Homo sapiens: one gene and its partners. The protein of the gene in region 3 interacts with the protein of the main gene of each other region in a biochemical or structural test. Each region holds a gene or a part of one and is shown on either strand. Other genes may lie near its edges.

The links. Proteins that work in one complex are often made in the same cells at the same time.
Region 1: the proteins of ASAP1 (region 3) and SH3GL2 form a complex in vitro, tested with the Homo sapiens proteins (one study listed by IntAct).
Region 2: the proteins of ASAP1 (region 3) and PACSIN2 form a complex in vitro, tested with the Homo sapiens proteins (one study listed by IntAct).

What each region holds. Positions count from the first base shown.
Region 1 is NC_000009.12:17,582,062-17,589,085, reverse strand, and holds part of SH3GL2 (endophilin-A1), read right to left. Parts: intron 1-7,024. UniProt on the Homo sapiens protein: Implicated in synaptic vesicle endocytosis. May recruit other proteins to membranes with high curvature. Required for BDNF-dependent dendrite outgrowth.
Region 2 is NC_000022.11:42,886,130-42,893,153, forward strand, and holds part of PACSIN2 (protein kinase C and casein kinase substrate in neurons protein 2), read right to left. Parts: intron 5,054-7,024; coding exon 4,818-5,053; intron 2,670-4,817; coding exon 2,514-2,669; intron 1-2,513.
Region 3 is NC_000008.11:130,440,670-130,448,435, reverse strand, and holds the start of ASAP1 (arf-GAP with SH3 domain, ANK repeat and PH domain-containing protein 1), read left to right. Parts: upstream 1-4,761; 5' UTR 4,762-4,976; intron 4,977-7,766. UniProt on the Homo sapiens protein: Possesses phosphatidylinositol 4,5-bisphosphate-dependent GTPase-activating protein activity for ARF1 (ADP ribosylation factor 1) and ARF5 and a lesser activity towards ARF6.

The DNA.
Region 1 (7,024 bases), on a different chromosome or scaffold from region 3:
TATGCACATATACATACACTTACAAGCTCACAAATAGATTAATATACAGACACACAATTAATTAATTATAGGCACCAGTAATAGCAAAACTGCTAGCTTTTTAACCAAAAACCCACTTTTACATCCTGGGCACATAGCTAGGCTACACTTGCCTTCTTCCATTTCTCTTAGGTGTACCACAGAGGGGCCATGTTACAAGTTCCAGCCAACCAAACATAAACAGAAGGAACTATTCCTTCTCTTCATTTTCAGCTGTTGTATAACAAATTACCACAAATTTAGCAGCTTAAAACAATACCCATTTATTATCTTACAATTCTATAAATTAGAAGTCTGGGCCTGCTTAAGTGAGCTCCCTGTTGAGGGCCTCACAAGGCCAAAATGAAGGCGTTGGCTAGACTGGGCTCTTATCTGGAAGCTTGGGGGAAGAATTCCCTTCCTCTCAGATTCTTCAAGGCTGTGGGTCTAAGATCCCTATTTTCCCTGCTGATGGTCACCAAAGAGCTGATTTCTGCTCCTAGAGGCTGCCTGCATTACTACTCACATGGCCCCTCCCTCTTTAAACCAACAACAGCATGTCCAGTCCTGCTCATACTTCCAATCTCTCTGATTTTTCCTTCCACTACCAGCCAGAGAAAATATCCTGCTTTTAAAGGGCTCATGAGATTAGATTAAGTCCAATCATATAATCTCCCTTTTGTCTTACAAAGTTAAAAGTCTCAGGAATAACATCTTTTCAAATTGAACATTGCACCCACACTCAAAGGGGAGGAGAGTACACAAGAGCAAGAGTCACCAACAATCGTAGCATTCTGTCTACCATATTCCTCTTCCAGGCCTGGCTTATGAACATCTCCCATGCTTGTTCAAACATATTCTTTCCCTTTGGCAACCTTGAAAACCATATGTTACAGATGGCAGAACCGATCCAGGGTCATCCTGAGTCCCTGAAGCAAATAACGGGAAATATAAATGAAAAAGACTTTGAGCAACAAAGTACCATTAAGACTTCTTGGTTAAGCCAAAGTATCAGGCCCTCTTGTTAAGTTCAGAGTAACACAACCAAGTCTACTGGATGAAAATTAGGTCTAAAAAAGAATTTCCATCATAGAAATTGGCAAATGAAACTCACAAGAAAACACATCAGAAGCCTATTAAGTTGAAGTTTTTCTGGTTTTTTTTTTTTGGTTTTTGTTTTTTTGAGACAGTGACTTGCTCTACTGCTCAGGCTGGAGTGCAGTGGTGCAATCTGGCTCACTGCAACCTCTGCCTCCCAGGTTCAAGCAACTCTCCCAGGTTCAAGCTTCAGCCTCCCGAGTAGCTGGGACTACAGGCGTAGGCCACCATGCCTGGCTAATTTTTGTAGTTTTAGTAGAGAAGCGGCTTCACCATGTTGTCCAGGCTGGTCTTGAACCCCTGGCCTCAGGTGACCCGCCCACCTCGGCCTCCCAAAGTGCGGGGATTACAGGCATGAGCTACCGCACTTGGCCAGAAGCCTACTAAGTTTATGAAGAAATTTCATTACTCAAATCTACCATGGATAGTGAAAACCCTATGACTGTAAAACAATCCCCAAATTTAAATAAACAGGAAGTTGACTGAAAAGTTATGCCGTTCCCAAAGAGGGCAGATTTCCTCTAACCCTCCTTAGACCTGGCCAAATATATATAAGAAAGAACAAGAGTTCTTCCCAGATTGCAGAGCCAGATTGTAAAACCAAGGAACTTCCTCTACTGGCAGGCAGGGGATTTCACAATGCCCCCTGCAGGATGCCATCACTGTTATGGACAATAACTGTCCTGACTCCCCTTCTCTCCTTTCCTCACTGGAGTCATTCACTGTGGACATTATTTCCTGTACTTTTTGTTTTGTTTTGTTTTGTTTTTGAGACAGTCTCGCTCTGTCGCCCAGGCTGGAGTGCAACGGTGTGATCTTGGCTCACTGTAGCCTCCGCCTCCCAGGTGCAAGCAATTCTCCTGCCTCAGCCTCCTGAGTAGCCAGAAATACAGCTGTGCATCACCAAGCCTGGCTAATTTTCCCATTTTTAGTAGAGACGAGGTTTTGCCATGTTGGCCAAGCTGGTCTCAAACTCCTCAAGTGATCTGCCTGCCTCGACCTCCCAAAGTGCTGGGATTGCAGGCATGAGCCACCGCACCCAGCCGATTTCCTGTACGTTTAAAAGCATAGGCTATCTGCTTTATGTTTCTTTCAAGCATTATTCTGTGATACGGTTTGGCTGTGTCCCCACCCAAATCTCATCTTAAACTGTAGTTCCCACAATCCCCATGTGTCATGGGAGGGACCTGGTGGGAGGTAATTGAATCATAGGGGTGGTTACCGCCACACTGTTCTCGTGATAGTGAGTGAATTCTCACGAGAGCTGACGGTTTTATAAGGGGCTTTTACCCCACTTTGCTCTGTACTTCTCCTTGCTGCCGTCATGTGAAGGACATTTTTGATCCCCCTTCTGCCATGACTGTAAGTTTCCTGAGCCCTCCCTAGCCATGCAGAACTGTGAGTCAATTACACCTCTTTCCTTTATAAATTACCCAGTCTCGGGTATGCCTTTATTAGCAACATGAGAACAGACTAATACATAGCTTGATATTGAGATGTTTCTCAGCATTATAAAACTGCTTCCATTAGTATCTATGGGGAAAGGTTAGTTTGAATTATAAAAAAGATATTTCTATTTTTTATATATATCATAATTCAAAAAAAGGCAGAAAACACTGCCTAGAGGTCCTTCAGTGTCCTAAGTATCCAAGTAAACCTCCATGGAGCTGTGGGTTCTTCACGAGTATTACAGACAGCTTCTCCATATTCATTACTACTATATACAATTTGACCCAGGGGATGGCGGAGGGAGATTAGGGTAGAGCAACTACAACATCATATTTGGCATTTAGAAGTTGTACTAAATGTAAAACCTTTATAAATAGTGAAATTATTTCCTGAAGCATTTGTCATCAGCTAATGATTTAGTATAGCATGAAAATATTTTGTTGGTAGAATGCAAAAGACTTGGCAGGGTCTCACAATCATGGCATTTTAATAAGTATAGTTATAGCTCTCTTTAGTCTTTATTATCCATCGGATACCATGTACATCATTCTTAAGCTTTTAGGCTCCTTAAGTGATTATGGAAACAATAAATTCTAAACCAAAAACACTGAGAAGGGTTGTACTACAAAGTTTCAAAACTTCACATGTTGTCTCCTGCTGCCTCTTGCTGCCTCAACATTCATTCCCACATACGCTAACTGTGAACACCCCACCCAGGTAACCAGGTGCACAAGTTTGATAAGGTTGGCCCCTACCACAAGTTCACCTCTCTGTCTTCTTCTGACCACGACCTACCAATGCACCAATGCAACGCACTGTGAACTGCACTGAGCTGTGAACTGCACTGAGATCACTAGTAAAGGCACTTGCCCACAGTCCTTGCTCTCTCTGCTCCCACCTGTTTCCCACCTGCTTAGCTGATCCTGCTCTCAGAGCTGTCACCTCCACCCCACGTGTCCCCCCTCCTATCCTCCTGTACAGTGATTGTCATTCTAAGACATGTGAGTATAATAAACTCTGTTTTCTTGAGCCTCTCCTATGTCCCCTCTTGTGGCTACACCTCACTGAACATTACCTAAAAGAACACAGGACAAGGGTACGAAGGATTAAAAGAACAAAAAGAGAAAAAAGGAGGCCAAAAAATCCACTGACTTCTTACCTACTTAGCATCTCCCCTATCTGGCCTTAAATTGAGAAGAATTGCTCATCTCTAGAAAGCCCCATCAGGTATCCACCTTAAAGTTTGAAGCAGTTCTTAAACTCCATCTCCTCACCTAATTCTCATTATTCATTTGTCAGTGTGTCCTGCCCTTCTCTCGCCGCTGCCTCAAGCTACTCCTCTGAAGAAAGCCCTCGGGTTGCTTGATGCCCTGAGACTCTGTATGCAGCACAAGAGGCTTGGCAGAATGGAATCTGCTCTGCAAGCTTCAGCTCCCTTCCCCTGAATATTAAACCTCTCCCTTCCACAATGACATCTGTCTCAAAACAGTCACCATTTGCCCCAACCAAGTCTTGCCATTTTCTAGGGTACTTCTAATTAATTTGCAGGTTACTTTAAAATTTTCTAAGTAGACTGAAACCAAAATTCATATAAACTCAATTTAAAATATTAAAGAATCACTATGGGGAAAAAAGCTTGCAAAAATATAGCTGTTTCAACAACACAAACTTCAATCACGAGGACTCTCAGTCTACAGAGAAATCATTTTCAGTCACCACTTTCTTTTCATATACCCCACAGGCCCGTATCGTTGACTTCAAGCGCATTAACAACATTTTGTTTTACATGGTTCAAGTGATCCTTATTATGCAAGCATGGCACTCTCACAAGCATTACCTCATTCAATCCTGACACCTCTGGAAAGGTTTTTTACATTTGATTGCTGCTAAATTAATGCAGAGAAGGCTGCATTTTGATCAGGCATCCTAAAGCCCAGTAACAGAACTGTTGGAGTGATTATTGTAAGAAACATCCACTTTCTCCTGATGACATGATGAATTTATTTATTTATTTATTTGAAACAGAATCTCACTCTGTTGCCCAGGCTGGAGTGCAGTGGCACCATCTTGACTCACTGCAACCTCGGCCTCCTGGGTTCAGGCAATTCTCCTGCCTCAGCCTCCTGGGTAGGTGGGATTACAGGCACCTGCCACCTCGCCCAGCTAATCTTTTTGTATTTTTAGTAGAGACGAGGTTTCACTGCACTGGCAAAGCCGGTTTTGAACTCCTGACCTCAAGTGATCCGCCCGCCTTGGCCTCCCAAAGTGTTGGGATTACAGGAGTGAGCCACCACGCCCCACCCTATTTTTACTTTTCGAGGGGAGGAAGGGGCAGCAATTAGGAATTTATTTAAGAATCTGGTAACAGGCTAAGGGCATTCTCCCTCAGAAAAATGCATGTATAAAATGTTACTTATAATTTTATAAAATATATAGGCCCCTTGCAGCCTATTAGAGACTACTGGCTAAGAATGTGAAAGGGTACAGGTGTAGAAATCCTGGGTCAAGCAACAAGCCACAGCCAAGATTTTAAAGGCAGCAGAGAGTTGACTGCTTAGAGGCAATTAAGAAACTGAAAATCTCACTGAGATAAAGTCATAACTAATTAGATATTTAATCCAATACTTAGTAAGTTTAACATCTCACCAAATCAACAAATGCATGAAAAGACTTATGTAATGGTCTCCTGAGCAAAGCATCCATATAAAATACAGCATTCTGAAAGAGGAAATTAGGTAAAACAAAAAGACACAGAACACAAACATGATGAAATTTTCCCAGTTAAGGAATCTGAGTGTGACAAATAAACATATACCAGACTGTATCATAAAACCCAGCCTACCCAAATTAATTTTATCATTTAAAAAAATCAGAAAACACAATTTATAATAGGTATATTTCTGACTTAGTCTGTTCAGGCTACTAACAAAATATCTTAGACGGGGTAATTTATAAATAATAGAATTTATTTCTCACAGTTTGGGAGGCTAGCAGTCCAAGATGAAGGCACTAACAGATTTGTGCCTGGCTAGGGCCCACCCTTTGCTTCAAAGATGGTGCCTTGTTGCTAAACCCTCACACGGTGGAAGGGGACAGGGTGACCCCTTCAACTTCTTTTAAGAGAGCACTAATCCCATTCATGACTTAATCATGAGTGCCCTCATGACTTAGTCACCTCCTAAAGGCCCCATTTCTTAATACTGTCACATTGGCAGTCAAGCTTCAACATACGTATTTTAGAGGGACACATTCAGAACTTAGCAATATACTAACCAACTCATTAAAAAAGGAGAAAGTATATCTTTTTGATGCAATAGAAAGTTATATGTTATTTATAGGCTGAACTGTCCTCTTAGATGTTGAATCAAATATAGAATACTGTGGTTAATCCTTTTATGCAAATAACGACTGTTATGGATTGAACTGTGCCCCTCCCAAAATTCATATTAAAGTCCTAATTACAATAGCTCAGAATGCAACTTTATTTGGAAATAGGGGCATTACAGATGGTAATTATTTAAGATAAAATCATACTGGAGTAGGATGGGCTTGCCCAATCCTATATGACTGGGGTCCTTACAAAATGGGGAAATTTGGACACTGAGACACACACAGGGAGAATGTCATGTGAGCATGAAGGCAGAGACCAAGGTGATGTATCTACAAGCCAAGGAAGCCCAAAGATTCCCAACAAAGCACAAGAGCTAAGAAGGCAGCCTCGAATAGATCCTGTCTCATACCTTCAGAGAGCTCGTGGCCCTACTGGCACCTTGGTCTCAGACTTCAAGTGTGCTTGTCTCAAGAAGTGGGAAACAATGTATTTCTGTCGTTGAAACGACTCAGTTTGTAGTACTTTGTTACAGCAGCTCCAGCAAACTCATAAAATGACCTAATATATTTTACTTTATAATAGACTTTTACATATTGTAAAGCAAAATGTGTCCACATCATATGCATGATAGAGTGAATTTTTAAAAATACAGATTTTGTAGGAGCTTCATGTTCACTGGAAACAGCTATTTTTAACTAAGCTGCTGCCAGTTTAAAACAAGTGTAAAAAAACTGACATGACTTTTGTAAAATGAAATCTCAATATGAATAAAACTCACTAAAAGAGCAACACAAGATCATCTGCCCTTTATTACAGTAAAAAAAGAATACTTTATTCTAATTATACAGTAAATTATATCTTTATGAGCAATTAAGTAATGAAGTACATGAAAATAAGATGATCAATCAATTTTTGGTATCATTATATATTTTCATGCTGAAAGGATTTTCTTCTCTAATAAATTTTACTTGGCAAAAGCATTTTTTTACCTCCAAATTGTAAACATATTGAAAATAACTGTCAGCAACAAGGTAGAAATAACCAATTCTAATATAAGACAACAGTTGTGACACATTTAATCAGAAATTCCAAGTACAAACAATATACTGTTTTATTTATCATCGCTTA
Region 2 (7,024 bases), on a different chromosome or scaffold from region 3:
CCCTGCCCTCAGCCTGTGCCGACCCTGCTAGCCCCAAGTCCTGCCCCCAGCACAGGCCAGGTACTCAGCAGGGTCATCACTGTTCTGGAAATCCCCTTGCAGGGCATAGAAAGTTCTCAGCGAACACCCATGGAGTAAAACAAGAGGCGGCCTTCACCCTTAGGTGGATTGTAATATTTTAGCACTAAATGCAAAAAGTTCTTTTATGATGGATGCTACAAGATGTAGTTGATGGCTGATAAGAAACATGAAAGTACATGTGCAACCAGTCAGCAATGGTATGTATGTAGGTAGGTAGGTAGGTAGGTAGGTAGGTAGGTAGGTATGTATGTACCTACCTACTTACCTACTTTAGAGATGAGGTCTCACTCTGTCACCCAGGCTGGAGTGCAGTGGTGTGACCACAGCTTGCAGCAGCCTTGAACTCCTGGGCTCAAGCAATCCTCCCGCCTCAGCCTCCAAAGTAGCTGGGACTACAGGCACGTGCTACCACACCCAACTAAGTTTTTAAATTTTTTGTAGAGATGAGGTCTCACTATGTTTCCCAGGCTGTGTGCTGGATTTTGGAAACTGCGTCAAGAAGGGTGGTGGGGAGGGACTGGCCTCCTCTCCAGAGCTCTAGGCACACAAGGACCTCTCATATCCTGCAGTCACTGGCCAGACCAAAGAGGCAGGGAGGGTCCCAGGAGGGAACCCACTACAAACTGTCCCAGTCATCCTGCCAGGCGCTTATGTCCAACCTCGAGCCCTGGGCCTGTTCTGCAAAAGCCTGAGTTGATGTTCTGGGTGGCTGTCAAACATGAAAGGCCTCTTCCTCTCCATCTCTGTCTCCCTTTCTCTCACACAGGCACGCCCCCGCCCAACATGGAGAAGCCCCATCTTTCCTCTAGGCACCTTTTTGGGCACCTGATTCCCTGGGATTCTGGCAAAGGCCCGAGAGTTCTCCCGGACCTTGTGCTTCTTGAGCCCAGGTGCCTCCCACTCAGTAGTTGGTTCCAGGCTCCTCACCTGATCCCACCGTGGAGGCACCTGGGCTGCTTCAAAAGCCCAGATTCCTGGCTCCAGCAATGGGAGTGAGAGGGGTTTCCCAGAGGATTCTGACACTTGGTCTGAGTGACGAACTCTCGTGTAGATGACGTGTTCCCCTTGCTACACCGACGGCATAGCAGTGAGGAACAGTGGAGAAAGGGCATATGTATGGGCTTGAGGTCAGAAGTTCCTGCTCTCACCTGCTGGATGGCACGTGACTTAACCTCTCTGATCTTGGTTTCCTCATTCACAAAACAGGGATGCCACCACCTAACTGACAGGGGCCAGGAAAGGCTGGTGGGTAGTGAAACCAGCTTAGGCCTCTTGCCTCCCCTCTGCCCATGTCCTCTTCCTGGAGTGCAGCCTCTCTCTACCTCATTCCGTCTCTCTCTGCAAATCCTGGTTGGGAATCTCCTCTCCAAACACCGAGGCAGGGCAGGCCCTCGGCAATCACACCCCCCAGCCCTCACCCCTCATGGCTGACCAAAGGAGGGGAGGTGGGGCCGAGGGCTGAGCCCCTCCCTTCCTGTGAACTTTTAAATCACAAGACGATGACGCTGTCTGGTTTTAAGTCCTGTGACTCCAGGACCTTCCAGGCAGAATCACTTATCTACACCTGCGGAGCATGTAATAGTTTACACAATGATTTCTCATTAACCCATGGGGCAGAAAATCTCCGCTTCACAACAGAAATGGAAGGGCACCCATGATGCCACAGTGCCTGGTCACGGTCTCTCCTTGGCCAAAGACCACCCTTCTGCCACCCCTGGCTCCACAGCCTCTGCCTCACTTTCGGGGCCTGTCACTGTGGAGACTGCAGGGCCCCTCCATCCTCCCTCCCACCTGGCTCCCCCAGACAAGCGCTCCCAGCCTGCAGTCCCTCCCCCAGGTCTCTGCCCCCAGCCCCTCTCCCTACACAAGCAGAGCAATCCTTCTAAACCATCTCACCCTCCTCACCTCCTCCCTGATCCCACCCAGGCTCAGGCCTTCCTGAGTGGCTCCTGGTCAGCAGCATCCTAAGCTCCTTACTCAGCCTGGCTGTCCAGGCCACTGGTGATTTGGTCCTCATAACCCTCCATACCAGCTCACACCACACCCATTCACACCCACCACTGGCCACAACCATTCACACCTGCCACCAGCCACACCCATTCACACCCACCACTGGCGACGCCCATGTTGGCACAAGCAGCTCCCTGCAGCAATCCCAGCTGTCCTTGTGTCTCTGAGCACCAAGAGCTGTCTCTTACCCCTGGCTTGCCCAGAGCCTGGCTCTGTCCCTTGACTGAGCAGGTACAGTGGCTATGGTGAGGCGAGGTGCTAGGGCACTCACCTGTGGCCTTCTTGAGGACAGGGGTGTGTTTTATTGGTTATTTATCCCTCTATCCACCCATTCACCCAAGCAGTTACAGAAGGCTATATGCCAGACACGTCAACAACTGACACGGTGACACTCGACGTGTAAAAACAAGTGTACAGTTTACCTTAAGAACATCTTGCTTGCACTTTTCTATTTTGTCTTGCAATTTCTTGAGCTGTTCAGGGTTGAGGGATGGGTCTGCCTTGCTGTTGGCTTCTCGTGAGATAGCCAGCTTCTCCTCTTTGCACGCTGCATGGTGGGCTTTCTTTGCTGCTTCTACCTACAGGGAGAATGAGTTCCTGAATGCCATGTCACTGGGAGTTCAGGATCCTCACTAGAAGTCACACAGACCATGGGAATGCTTGTGCTACCAAGAGGGGAGAAAAAGGCAGGTACAAAATTGTATGTATACTATCATAGCAACCAGTCACAACAGGAACGCACTCAACACATATTCATGGAGTACTTGCTTGTCCTGTGCATGGTTCGAGGCACCAGGAACACAGCAAGAAACACAAGGTCTTTGTGAAGCTTTCATTTGAGTTGCAGGAGGCAGATACAGTATAGGAAAAGTTACATGCCAGAGTCAATTAGAGGGCATTAAGTGTAGGGGAGGACAACTGAGACGGAGCATGGGGTGGGTGGAGAAAGCCACTGAGATGACATGGAACACGCACATGGAGCACGCACATGGAACACGCACATGGAGGGGTTATGGGCATCCCAGGAAGACCATGCCAGGCCGCAGGATCGGCAAATACAAAGAAAGTTCCAAGGAGGAACCCAGCATGAGAGAGAGGACCATACTAGGGGGCAGGGCCATCAGCCACATTTCCTCTGGTTTTAATGGTTTTTACACACACACACACACACACACACACTCTTAACAGATCCTTCCTTATTTGAGCCAAAGCCACAAATTTCATTCTAGAGGGAAGGAGGAGTTTATTAGCAAAGGCCTCATGAGACACAGACAGTTTCATTATGAATGGGGCCAGGGACAAAACAGAAGAGAAAGGAGATGTGACAAAAGCTAAGACACAGAGAAAAGGAGACACAGAGAAAACCATCCGGAAGGACAGAGGCATGTTCTGGATGATTCTGAGGCGGAGGAAGGCAGCGCAAGGCCAGAGAACATCTGGGTGTTGGGGGTGGCACATCTACCGTCTACTCCATTCCAGCTAGGAATGGGGGGCGAGGCTGCAGGCAGGGGCGGGGCACACAAGCTGAGGGCTGGGGTGGACAGATGACAGCCTCCAACTAGCCAAGGCTCGACAAAACTCAATGGCTTTGGTTGCTACTTTTAGAAAAACAGGTATCAATGTTTGAAATTTTGGGATAAAAACCTATGCAAGAGAAAGAAAAATGTAAACTAGTTCTTTCTATCGTCAAAGGGACTTGAAAAAAAAATAAAGTGAAAGCAAGTTTATTGAGAAAGTAAAGGAATAAAGAAAGGCTACTGCACACGCAGAGCAGCCAAAGGGACTTTTTTTTTTTTTTTTGAGACAGAGTCTCCCTCTGTCACCAGGCTGGAGTGCAGTGGCGTGATCTCAGCTCACTGCAACTTCCACCTCCTGGGTTCAAGTGATTCTCCTCCCTCAGCCTCCTGAGTAGCTGGAACTACAGGTGCCCGCCACCACGCCCTGCTAATTTTTGTACTTTTAGTAGAGATGGGGTTTCATCATGTTGGCCAGGATGGTCTCAATCTCCTGACCTCGTGATCCGCCTGCCTCAGCCTCCCAAAGTGCTGGGATTACAGGCGTGAGCCACCGCGCCCGGCAAGGACTTTTAAGTCTCCAGCAGACACTTCCCCAGGGTTGGGAGAAGTACTGTTAGTGGTTAAGAGCTTGGGCTTTGAGCTCTACCACCAATGTATGGTTCTGATCCTCAGTTACCAAATCTGTAAAATGTGTTGGTAGGATCAAATTTAAAGAATGCCCTGTAATTCCAGCACTTTGGGAGGCCAAGGTGGGTGGATCACCTGAGGTCAAGAGTTCGAGACCAGCCTGGCCAACATGGTGAAACCCCGTCTCTACTAAAAATACAAAAATTAGCAGGGTGTGGTGGCATGTGCCGGTAGTCCCAGCTACTCGGAGGGCTGAGGCAGAATTGCTTGAACCCAGGAGGCACAGGTTGCAGTGAGCTGAGATTGCACCACTGCACTCCAGCCTGGGAGAGAGAGTGAGACTTTGTCTCAAAAAATAAAAATAAAAAATTTAAAGAATGCACATAGAGCATTCAGCATCTTCAACCTGGGTAAATGTCAACTACCATGGGCTTCTAGCCTGAGGAGTGGCTTCATCTCTACCAGGTCTGGCCTCCTGTGCCTACAGCCAGTGGCAGGAAGTCCTAGGTGCAGGAGGTGGTGCTGCTAGTGGGGTGCCAGGCAGAGCAAGGCCGGGCAGGGAAGCCTGCAGGACAGATGTACCTCTTTCAGCTTCTTGGCCCAGGGCTTCTGTGCCTTCCGAAAGCCGTCCTCAGCTTCCTTGGTCTCCTTGAAGCCGCCCATCATCTGCTTGTGAAAGGCTTCCTTCTGCCAGTTCTTGATCTTCTCGAAGTCATCGTTCATCAGTGAGGCCTTCACCTCGAGGTGCAGCTCGCTCACCCTCTCTGCCTCGGACATGAAGGCCATCCAGGCCTTCTCCACGGTCCCGTACTGGGGCCCTGTGCAGGGGAGAGAAGCTGCGGGTCACTCAGCGCCGGCCATGGTGGGGTCTGCTCTGCTCACACCTCGGCTGTTCAATGTGGCCATTTAGACCACAGAGGGTTTCCTTTCAGGGTTTCAGATATTTTTCTCTCAGGGACTCTGTGCCTTTTTCAGTTCCCAAAGCTGAATTTGCTCTGCCCCTCGTGTTAGGAAAATTGGGGGATTACATGCCTTTCCTTTATTTTTATTTTTGGGATGGAGTTTCGCTCTTATTGTCCCGGCTGGAGTGCAGAGACGTGATCTTGGCTCACTGCAAACTCTGTCTCCCAGGTTCAAGAGATTCTCCTGCCTCAGCCTCCCGAGTAGCTGGGATTACAGGTGCCCGCCACCACGCCTGGCTAAATTTTTGTATTTTTAGTAGAGACGGGGTTTCACCATGTTGGCCAGGCTGGCTGATCTCGAACTCCTGACCTCAGGTGATCCATTCGCCTCGGCCTCCCAAAGTGCAGGGATTACAGGCGTGAGCCACCGCGCCCGGCCATGCCTTTCCTTTATTTAAAGCCACTGAACTCTATAAAAACTCAAATTTCCACATCTTAGAAGTCTTAATTTACTTAAAGGTGGCCAGAGAAGGGGGGACCTTCTGAAGTGAGCAGATGCTTCTCCCAGGTGTTGGGCACCCACCCACACCATGCCAACGCTTCTCCTGGCATGGCTCCTATCAGCCCTGCTTGGCCCCTGGCTAGCCCTGCACTGCCTTCCTCTGCAGGACTGTGTTCATTCACTCCCAGAAAGAGCCTGGCTCTGAGCACAAGCTTGAGAACACTGTGGAATGAGGACTGTCCCCTCAGCAGAATGGAAGCCCATCCTGCAGGAGGAAGGAGAGGAGGAAGCAGGAGCCTGCTCTGGACCAGTATGGCAGGAGGGGCTGAGTCGCCTCTCCCTACTCACTGTTCTCAGTCCCCGAGGCTCAGGAAGGAAGCCCTAATCCAGGCTGGCATTTCTATTCAGGGGGTAGGGTGGGGTGGCGTGAGGCTGGAGGGAGGGAGAGCCACAACGGAGCCGGGGCAGAAATCGAGAAGATCCATGGCTGGTCTTCAAGGTGGTCACAGGGACAGTGACCAAGTGCGCTGAGTCATGACAGAGGTGGGCTGAGGGGAGGGCAGGCTGTGAGAACCCAGAGGGGGACACGTGACTCTGGGGCTTGGAGACAACAGAGAACAGCCCCGGAAGTTGGACCTCTCTGTGCCTTCGTGTCTACAAAATGAGCACATTCCTGTCCTGTCCACAACGTTACAGCCAGACCCACAAGGTGAGGGTGGTAAGGGTGCTCTGTAAACCTCAAGCTCTGACTGACAGCTTGATCCTGGGAGAGGGGCTGCAGCAGGTGGAAACGAAATGACGACACTGCCACCGACCAAGGGAGCTGACCTATCCTAGGCCCCTCCTCTGCCACGTGCCTGCTCCACAGCCTGGGCACATACCCTGCCCTAAGGACTGTGCTAAGCCCACACAAACAACCCATGTCAGCATCACGGGAAAGGACAGGCAGCTGGACTAGACCTGGCTTGCTTGGGACCTGGCTCCCCTGATTGGCTGAGGACAGCTGGGGCTGAGGACAGCTGGTCAGCACAGGAAAGCCTGCCCCAAAACACACCTTGAGAAACCCACACTGCTCTGCTTCTGTGCCGGAAAGGCTGTAATCAGTCAAGTTCCCCTTCCCTGCTGGGAAGTGTGTTCTAAGCATGGCCCCTGTCCACACAACAGTGGCACTAATAAAGCTACAGAATCTTCTGAGCTTTTCGGTGGGGACAGAAGGGGGTGAAACCTCTGCCATACAACACCTGTAATTATTCCCTTAAAATGTAAACTCAGAAAGACTGCCAGGTGTTGCCAGCTAGTCTTATCTGACCTGCTACATGGCCAAGTTTAAAAATAAACAGCTCTCAGTGTTAGAAACTAAGGTGCCAAGCGGCAAGGCCTTCCAC
Region 3 (7,766 bases):
TGCAATCATGGCTCACAGCAGGCCTTGACCTCCAGGCTCAAGCGATCCTCCCACCTCAAGGGATCCTCCCACCTCAGCTTCCCAAGTTGCTGGAACTAGAAGCACATACTACTATGTCTGGCTAATTTTAAATTTTTTTGTAGAGATGGGGTCTTGCCATTTTGCCCAGGCTGGTCTCAAACTCCAGGGCTCAAATGATTCCCTTGCTTTGGGTCTCCCAAAGTGTTGGGATTACAGGCATGAGCCACCTTGCCTAGCCCAGAGCATGATTTTCATAAGGAATTAAACTCAGGGGTCTAAACTCAAGATACCCACCTAGCTCCTGGTCTGTGACTTCAGGATGTTCATGGTGGAACTTTAGAGTTCTGCACCTTGCCCTTCGGCCCTCTCCTTCAGCAGACAAGGTGGCCTCTTCCAGTCCAGGGTTCGTGCCCCCAACCCACTCTAGTTCCCATCTCCTCTCATCCTCAGTACCTGTTCTATCAATGAACCATCCCTTCCTCTCAACCTCACCTACCAACCCAGATGCTTGCCTGCCCACACATTTTTAAAGAAGCCTCTACCCTTACCTCCCACTTGCTAGACAGCTACATTTCTGAAAAGAGTTGTCCACGCTTACTGTCTCCCACTCCGTCCTCAACCCACCGCAATCTGGCTTCCAATCCCTCCACTCCATCGAGACAGCTCTGGTAAAAGTTATCAGCCTTCTCATTGTCAAATGAAATGAACACTTGCTTTCTGGTCCTTTCTTGATGAAATTTCCTGTGACATTTGTGAATGTTGCTCATTCCTTCCTTGTAAAAGCAATTTCTTCCCATGCCCCCTGGTTCTCCTCTGGTTCTCTTCTTCTCATTATTCACTCTCCCAACAGCTTGAACTGGCAAGAAAGACAGTGCAGGGTGGTGAAGAGCCTGGACTCCAATGCTCCTTGATATGGTTTGGCTGTGTCCCCACCCAAATTTCATCTTGAATTCCCATATGCATTCCCCTGCACAAACTCTCTCTCTCTTTGCCTGCTGCCATCCACGTAAGACATGACTTGCTCCTCCTTGTCTTCTGCTGTGATTGTAAGGCTTCCCCAGCTGCGTGGAACTGTAAGTCCAATTAAATGTCTTTCTTTTGTAAATTTCCCAGTCTCACGTATGTCTTTATCAGAAGCCTGAAAATGGACTAATACACTCCTCTACTCACTAGTGGTTGGCCTTGGGCAAGTTACTCAACACTCCTGTGCCTCAGTTTCCTCAACTGCAAGATGGTGTAAGGCTTTTTAGTCTCATTGTTTTCCATGTCTGAACATGCATCATGTTCTCAGATCATGCTGAACCTGGTAGAGTCACCCACATATATTATGTGTTCATGCTCAGTCTTTACTCAGGCACTTGGGAGTGCCCAGCCAGTATCTGTGAATATATGCATGAACACTACTCTGGATTGGGTTTCCCCAGAAGTATACCTTGAGACAAGGAGATGGGTGCAGTTACTTTATTTGGGATCCCAAGAACAAATAAGGAAGTGAGAAAGTAAGGCAAGGAAGGGAGAAGAGGCAAAATCAAAGAGTGACTTAATGAGGGAGTGACTGCTGGGGGCAACTGGACTCATTCCTACTGGGGAATTCCTCTGAGGAACTGCCTTGAGAGCATTTGAGAATTGATCTTCCTTAGGGAAGGGGAGGCTGACACATTCATCCACTGTTTGGTTAAGGACTGACCCAGGGCTGTTGGAAACTTCCAGGCTAGGCAAGATCCCACAGCCCTTGAGAAAGCCTCCTGGTAGAGAGGAGAAAGGGGGCCTGCTTTGGATAGACAGTTTCTCTGTACAGAGGGCAGCTCATTGCAGCTGCCGGTGAGCTCAGAGGTGGGCCCAGGGGACATGGAGCCGAGCATCACTAACACTCACGCTTGTTACTCTGGTTGGCAGGCCTGTGCCCCCTTATCTAGCTACATAGGTCCCATCTCCTCCTTGAAAGTTCGTTCAAGAGCACCCACTTCTTGGAAGCATTTTCCAACTTATCTCCACCCTACTCCACCTTCAATGTTCTGAATAGCCCTGGATACCCTGGACATGACTCTATAAGAGTACTTATCTCTCTGCTTACTAGATAGAGCTTTCCTGTCTTTCTTAGCAAGAATAGTTCTTTTTCATCATTGCACATGTAGGGCCCAGATTTTTTTAGCACATTACAGGCACTTAACCGATGCCTTAAAATGAATTCAAGTTCACCTTGCTCAGGGACCCACTCAGAGCAAGTGGTCAACAAATGTGGACTCCTTTCCTCCATCTGATTTAGGAGAACAGTCATCTAGTGAGTATACAATATGACAAATATATTCTTTAAACAGAAATGCCAAGGAAGCACAAAGGAGGGAGTAATTAACTGGGACTATACCAATGAGACTATAGTTACCTCATTTGACAGTCTTAATTACTTAGGTTTTTTTTTTTTTTTTTTTTTTTTTTTTTTTTGAGACGGAGTCTCACTCTGTCACCCTGTCTGGGATGCAATGGCATGATCTCAGCTCACTGCAACCTCTGCCTCCCGGGTTCAAGCGATTCTCCTGCCTCAGCCTCTGGAGAAGCTGGGATTACAGGTGCCCACCACCACGCCCGGCAATTTTTTGTATTTTTAGTAGACACGGGGTTTCACCATGTTGGCCAGACTGGTCTCAAACTCCTGACCTTAGGTGATCTACCTGCTCGGCCTCCCAAAGTGCTGGGATTACAGGCGTGAGCCACCGCGCCTGGCCTACTTATAGTTTTAGTTTTCCAGAAGCACTAATAGAGCCATCTGGTGCTCCTTCCACCGCACTGGGCGTTCCCTTTTGAATCTCTCCACCAAAGAGGAAGCCACAGGGAGCTGCGGGACCGAGTGAACCACCCTACCTCAGGCAGAGGTCCCATCTGCAACTCTAGTTTGTTTGCTTCTTTCATTTATTCAACACGTGTTTATCGATGGTCTCATATGGGCCAGCACTGTTCTAAGGAAACAGGCAAAGGTACTGCTGTAATGCAGTTTACCCATGCAGTGGGGAGAGTGGGGGGCAGATAAAAAATAAGCAACCAATCATGTAGGCTACATTAAACAGTGACAAGGGCTATGAAGCAATCAAACAGGATGCGCTATGTTTGGGAGAGGTGGAGGTGGGGTGTAGGTGCCAGAGACAAGCAGATCACATGGTTGGGGAAAACCTATCTGCGGAGCTGACTTCTGGGCTGTGAGCTGCGTGCCAAGAACAGCCATACAAGGGTTCTTCCAGGCAGAGGGGACGGCAGCTACAGTGGGCCTGGAGCAGGACCCTGGGACTCCTGGTGCCCAGCTCAGAGCTGTCCTACTGCTTCTGGCCACGGAGAGAGAATTGCAGAAAAGGAACAATGCTGGGTCTAAAACTGGTATCTGTTCCTTACTTGGAGTAAACGAGCTGGTACCCAACTTTCAGTTCCCAGCAGGTTCATTTCAGGCTTCTGTTTTCGCTCATGAGCATGTTGTTCCCTCTTCAAAGTCTGATTGGGTTTCAAAGGAATCTGAAACACTTACAGCAAAACCACCAAGCTGCATCCTCCAGGTAGACACCCCCGAAATGTGGCATTTCCGTGGGAAACCACAATGAATCACTCATTGGCTGCCCGACCTCTCTGCCCAGTCAGAGATTGATTTTGGTTTTCCCAAACTTTGTAAATCCGCTCCAGACTGTTTAACAACCCCCACTCCCCACTACACCCAGACTCTCAGATTAGGAGCAAAATCCCAAATTTTGTGAGGTTTTCTGTTTCGGATTTCACCAGAAGGGGGTCTGCCACAGCCACTAACCATTTCCTCTGCAGAGAGCCGTTTCTGAAATGCTGCAAAGAAAAACAATCACCCAATGATTAGGAGGGAAATTAAGTTCTAAAGAAAGACTACTGTCTCTGACTTTGAAAGTAGACATAGATATGCACAATATACATCCCACAAATTAAAATCCTCCTTTCTCTGATGTCTTTTAATGGTAATAATAAGGACAAGCATGGCTATCATTTATTTGGGCGTTTCCAATGTGCCAGTCCCTGTCTAAACATTCAGCTTCCAGATCAAACCTATGAGGGTGGAATTAACATCCATTTCATAAATGGAAACTGAGGCTCAGGAAAGTTGAGCGAGTTACTCAAGGTAACATGAGTAGAAAAAAGGCCATATTCCAACCGGACACAGAGCCTGCAGCCCACACAATTACTCTCCATACTGTTCCTATACTATCCTGACTGGGAAGGTCCTGTTCCCTTGGCACTGGGCAAAAATAAAATTATAAGAGCAGAGAGGAAGTGGTGAAAGGGGGCAGCCTGGTGAAATCATTCCTTTACTGAAAATAGGGGTAACGGCCAGGACAGTGCAGGTCCATCCTCTGCAGATGGAAGACAGGCACGTCCTTTGCCGCTGTCCCGGCCTTAGAAAGGCACCTTCCGCGTCCAGGGTTTTCTGTGGATAAATCCCACCCCTTCCACCTCAGGCGGGGAGGAGGCCGGCCGGCCGGGGCATGGGGCGGAAGGCGAAGGACGCCCGACCCCGGCCGAGGTCTGGGGCCCCTCCCACGCCCCCCTCGTGGCTGCCGGCGGGCCAAGGGTTAAGCGAGGCGGGAGCCCCCGGCGCGGAGCGGCTCGGGGCCGGGAATGCTTAGTCAGGATTCCGATTTCCTGTCGAAGTGTTTGGATTTCCTGAAACCCGCGCCCTCCGCCGCCGAGCGGGATCGTGCGAGCCGCTCGCGTCGCCGCGGCCTCCTCCCCCTCGGCACATGGTCGCCCGCCCCTTCCTGCGCCGCGCTCGGCTCCCGCGCCTCGCCTGGCCTGGCCGCTGCCGCGGGCGAGCACTGTGCGCTGGGCAGCCCCGGGCCCGCGCCTCCCGCCCAGCCGGCGCTTCCCGGTCGCAGTTCGCTTTCCCACCCGAGAGCCGCGAGCGCCCGGCCGAACCCGCGATGGAATAATGCCCAGCGGCCCGCCAGGTCCCGGTGAGTTGCGGGGCGCTCGGGCGCGCTCGGCGGGGCCGGGCGGAGTCGCCCACAGTCGCGGGCGCCCCCTGCCCAGTCTCTCGCGCGAAGAAGGGCGCCGGGACGGGGCGCGGGGCGGGCTCCCGGCTCCTCTCGCAGCGGGGTGTCCTTCTCCGCGGGGAGGGCGCCGGCCCTGGGCTGGGGCGTGTGCGGGACGCGCGGCCAGGCTCTGCGGGGCCGGGCGAGGCCGCCCGGTGGGGGGGGGAGGTCTCCTCGCCTCCAGCTCGGGAGAGGGGGCCCCTGCAGTGGGGCCGGGGACGGGGCCCGCCCTGGGGGGTTTCGCGTCCCCCTCCGGGGGAGGGCCCGGGACGACGTGCTTGGCGGCCCGGACCCCGCCGATGGGGCGCCCTCCCGGCATTGTCTCTGGTGCAGCCGAGGAAAGTTCCCCGCGGCCCCCGGCCCCTACCCGGACCCGGCGCTGCTTGGCAGGCCCCAGGCCACTTGCCTAAAGCAAAAGAAGAGAAACGAAAGGGAAGGGGGTGGGGGGAGTCCTACTTGGAGCTTGGGGTTGGCTCCTGGGCGGACCGTGAAGTGGCTTGTGTTTTCTGCTTGTACCATTTTGGGACCTGCTGCGTTTTCTGAGAGCGACATGAAGTTTCAAAGAAAAAAGAAACTTGCCGGTGTCCGGTTTTCTGCGGTTTGATACATCCCAAGAGGTTCATCTTGGGCACTTCTAAAGCAGTTTCCTTTAATAATGTGGTTTTCCAGTAGCTCAGGGAGAAGGATGGTCAACTGCAGACCATCATCGTTAACTTGACCTCAACTTTACCTGTACTCGTCAGGAAAGCAAAAGAACTTTCTCTCGCATTTTCCCCTGTCTACTCTGTTAGGTTATCTTGGCGTGATTGATTCTGGGATGACATCAGGACCTGGATTGCTGAGTAATGTTTTGGGATTGTAAAAGCTTATCAGTTTTTAGGCCAGGGTTATCTGTATTGCAACCTTCATCCCAAAGCCTTTCTGTTTTGCAATTGTAGCGCGGCCAGATAGCTTTAAGAAAATGCGGGTCTTCTGGAAACACCCAGTGAACAGTTTGGAAAGAAAAAGATCTTTGAGAACAACTGATTCACCCCCTTCAGAGAAGGCCCAGAAAGGTGACCTGACTTGCCCAAGATCACATGGCCAGGAGTAGTTTCCACTTCTTCAGGCTCAGTCCCATGCCCCTTCTGTGTTAGATTTTGATCTGTTAGCCATGAAACAGATTTGGAAACGTCTTCTTTGCGTCACAGCCTTCACCACTTTAGTGCCTTCTCTTCTGTCCTGTTAATGCTGCTATTTTTGAGATATGCACTTATTTCAAACTGCATATTTTGAGATAGGGAGTTAAAAAAAACAAAAATCACCTAACGCCACTAAGTGGATTTGGAGATTCAGCTACCAAATGGATTTGAAGTATAAAATGAGTGGCTTATTATACGGGGAATTACTTTCCCTATCCCATTCTTTTGTGCAAAATAGAAACTCCCAGGTCCAAAAAAGGGCAGTATCTTAGCACATAATGTACCCTCTGATGTTCTCTAGACTTGATTTTCAGCCCTCCTGTTTCTTGTGAGCTAAGCAGCCCATCTATTTTTCTCATGAGAGCTCTGAATGGCTGGTTTTTCATTTTTAGTATGTGATAATGTTGGAGAGAAAGGACTTTTCGCAAGCTTGCCATTTGGTGAGGGAAATTGAAATTCTCTACACCTCCCCAGTCCTCACCAGCCACAGCGAGCCAGATTTTCAAAATCAGTGCAAGCCTGGCAGGCCCAAAGATGAATGTGTGCATTCAGATTGAGCCCTCCCTTGTGAAGACTCACGTCCCAGCTGGCATCTCCATGCTGCACCTAGGTGACTGAAGTCTAGAGGAAAGAAGGGAACCCCAGTTAGCTAGGACAGTGTTGTTCCTGCCATTTCCCCACCTAGGTCTCAGCCGTATTTGGATCCTGCTGCTCGGTTCTCATTTTTCCCTGCCGTTTTTTCACCCAACCACTGCTGTATCTGGCATGGGCTCCGGAAGGTCTTTTCTAGGAGACTGCATGAGTGATCCCCACGTGAGCAATAGTAACAGTCACCCCATTTATTAAGCACTTGCTGTATGCCCTAGACATGTTACCTCCTAAGAAGTCCTAAGGAGGAGCGGAAACTTCTTGGGGAGCCTTGCCCAGAAAGGACAGCACATCTCAGATTTATCTGGAATCGAGTTTTTCTTTCATGCATCCAGTGAAACATTTGCTAAGTGGCTTCCCTGTGGGAGGTGCCAGTCCTGCAAAGATGAATAGGACCCTGTTCTCAAGGCCTTCTATTTCCAGCCTCATCTTTCAATGTCAGCCTCACACTTTCTCTTTTAATTCATCAATTGAACAACCATGCATTGAGCACCTGCGCCATGCTAAGCCCTGTGTGGAGTCCTGATGATACAGTGGTGGACGAAATAGACCTGGCACTGCCCTTCTGGAGCTTGCATTCCTCTGGAGGAGATGAGCAACAAGGAAGAAGCAGAAGAAACAACCTCTAACAGATGAGTGATTCCTTGTTATCAAGGAAACAAACCTGGGACCAAAGTAGGGGCTGGTGGCACAAGTTGGTCCTAGTTTTGGAAGGGAAAGCCTTTCTGAGATTGGAAAATGGAGAAGGAACTGGCCAGGCAGAGAGATTGCAGGGGAGGGCCTTCCAGGCAGAGGGATGGGAATGTGCAAAGTTGACTATGCACAAAAGAGCTTGGTGTATTCCAAGGAGTGAGGGAAGGCAGGGCTAGAGTGTAAGGGAGAG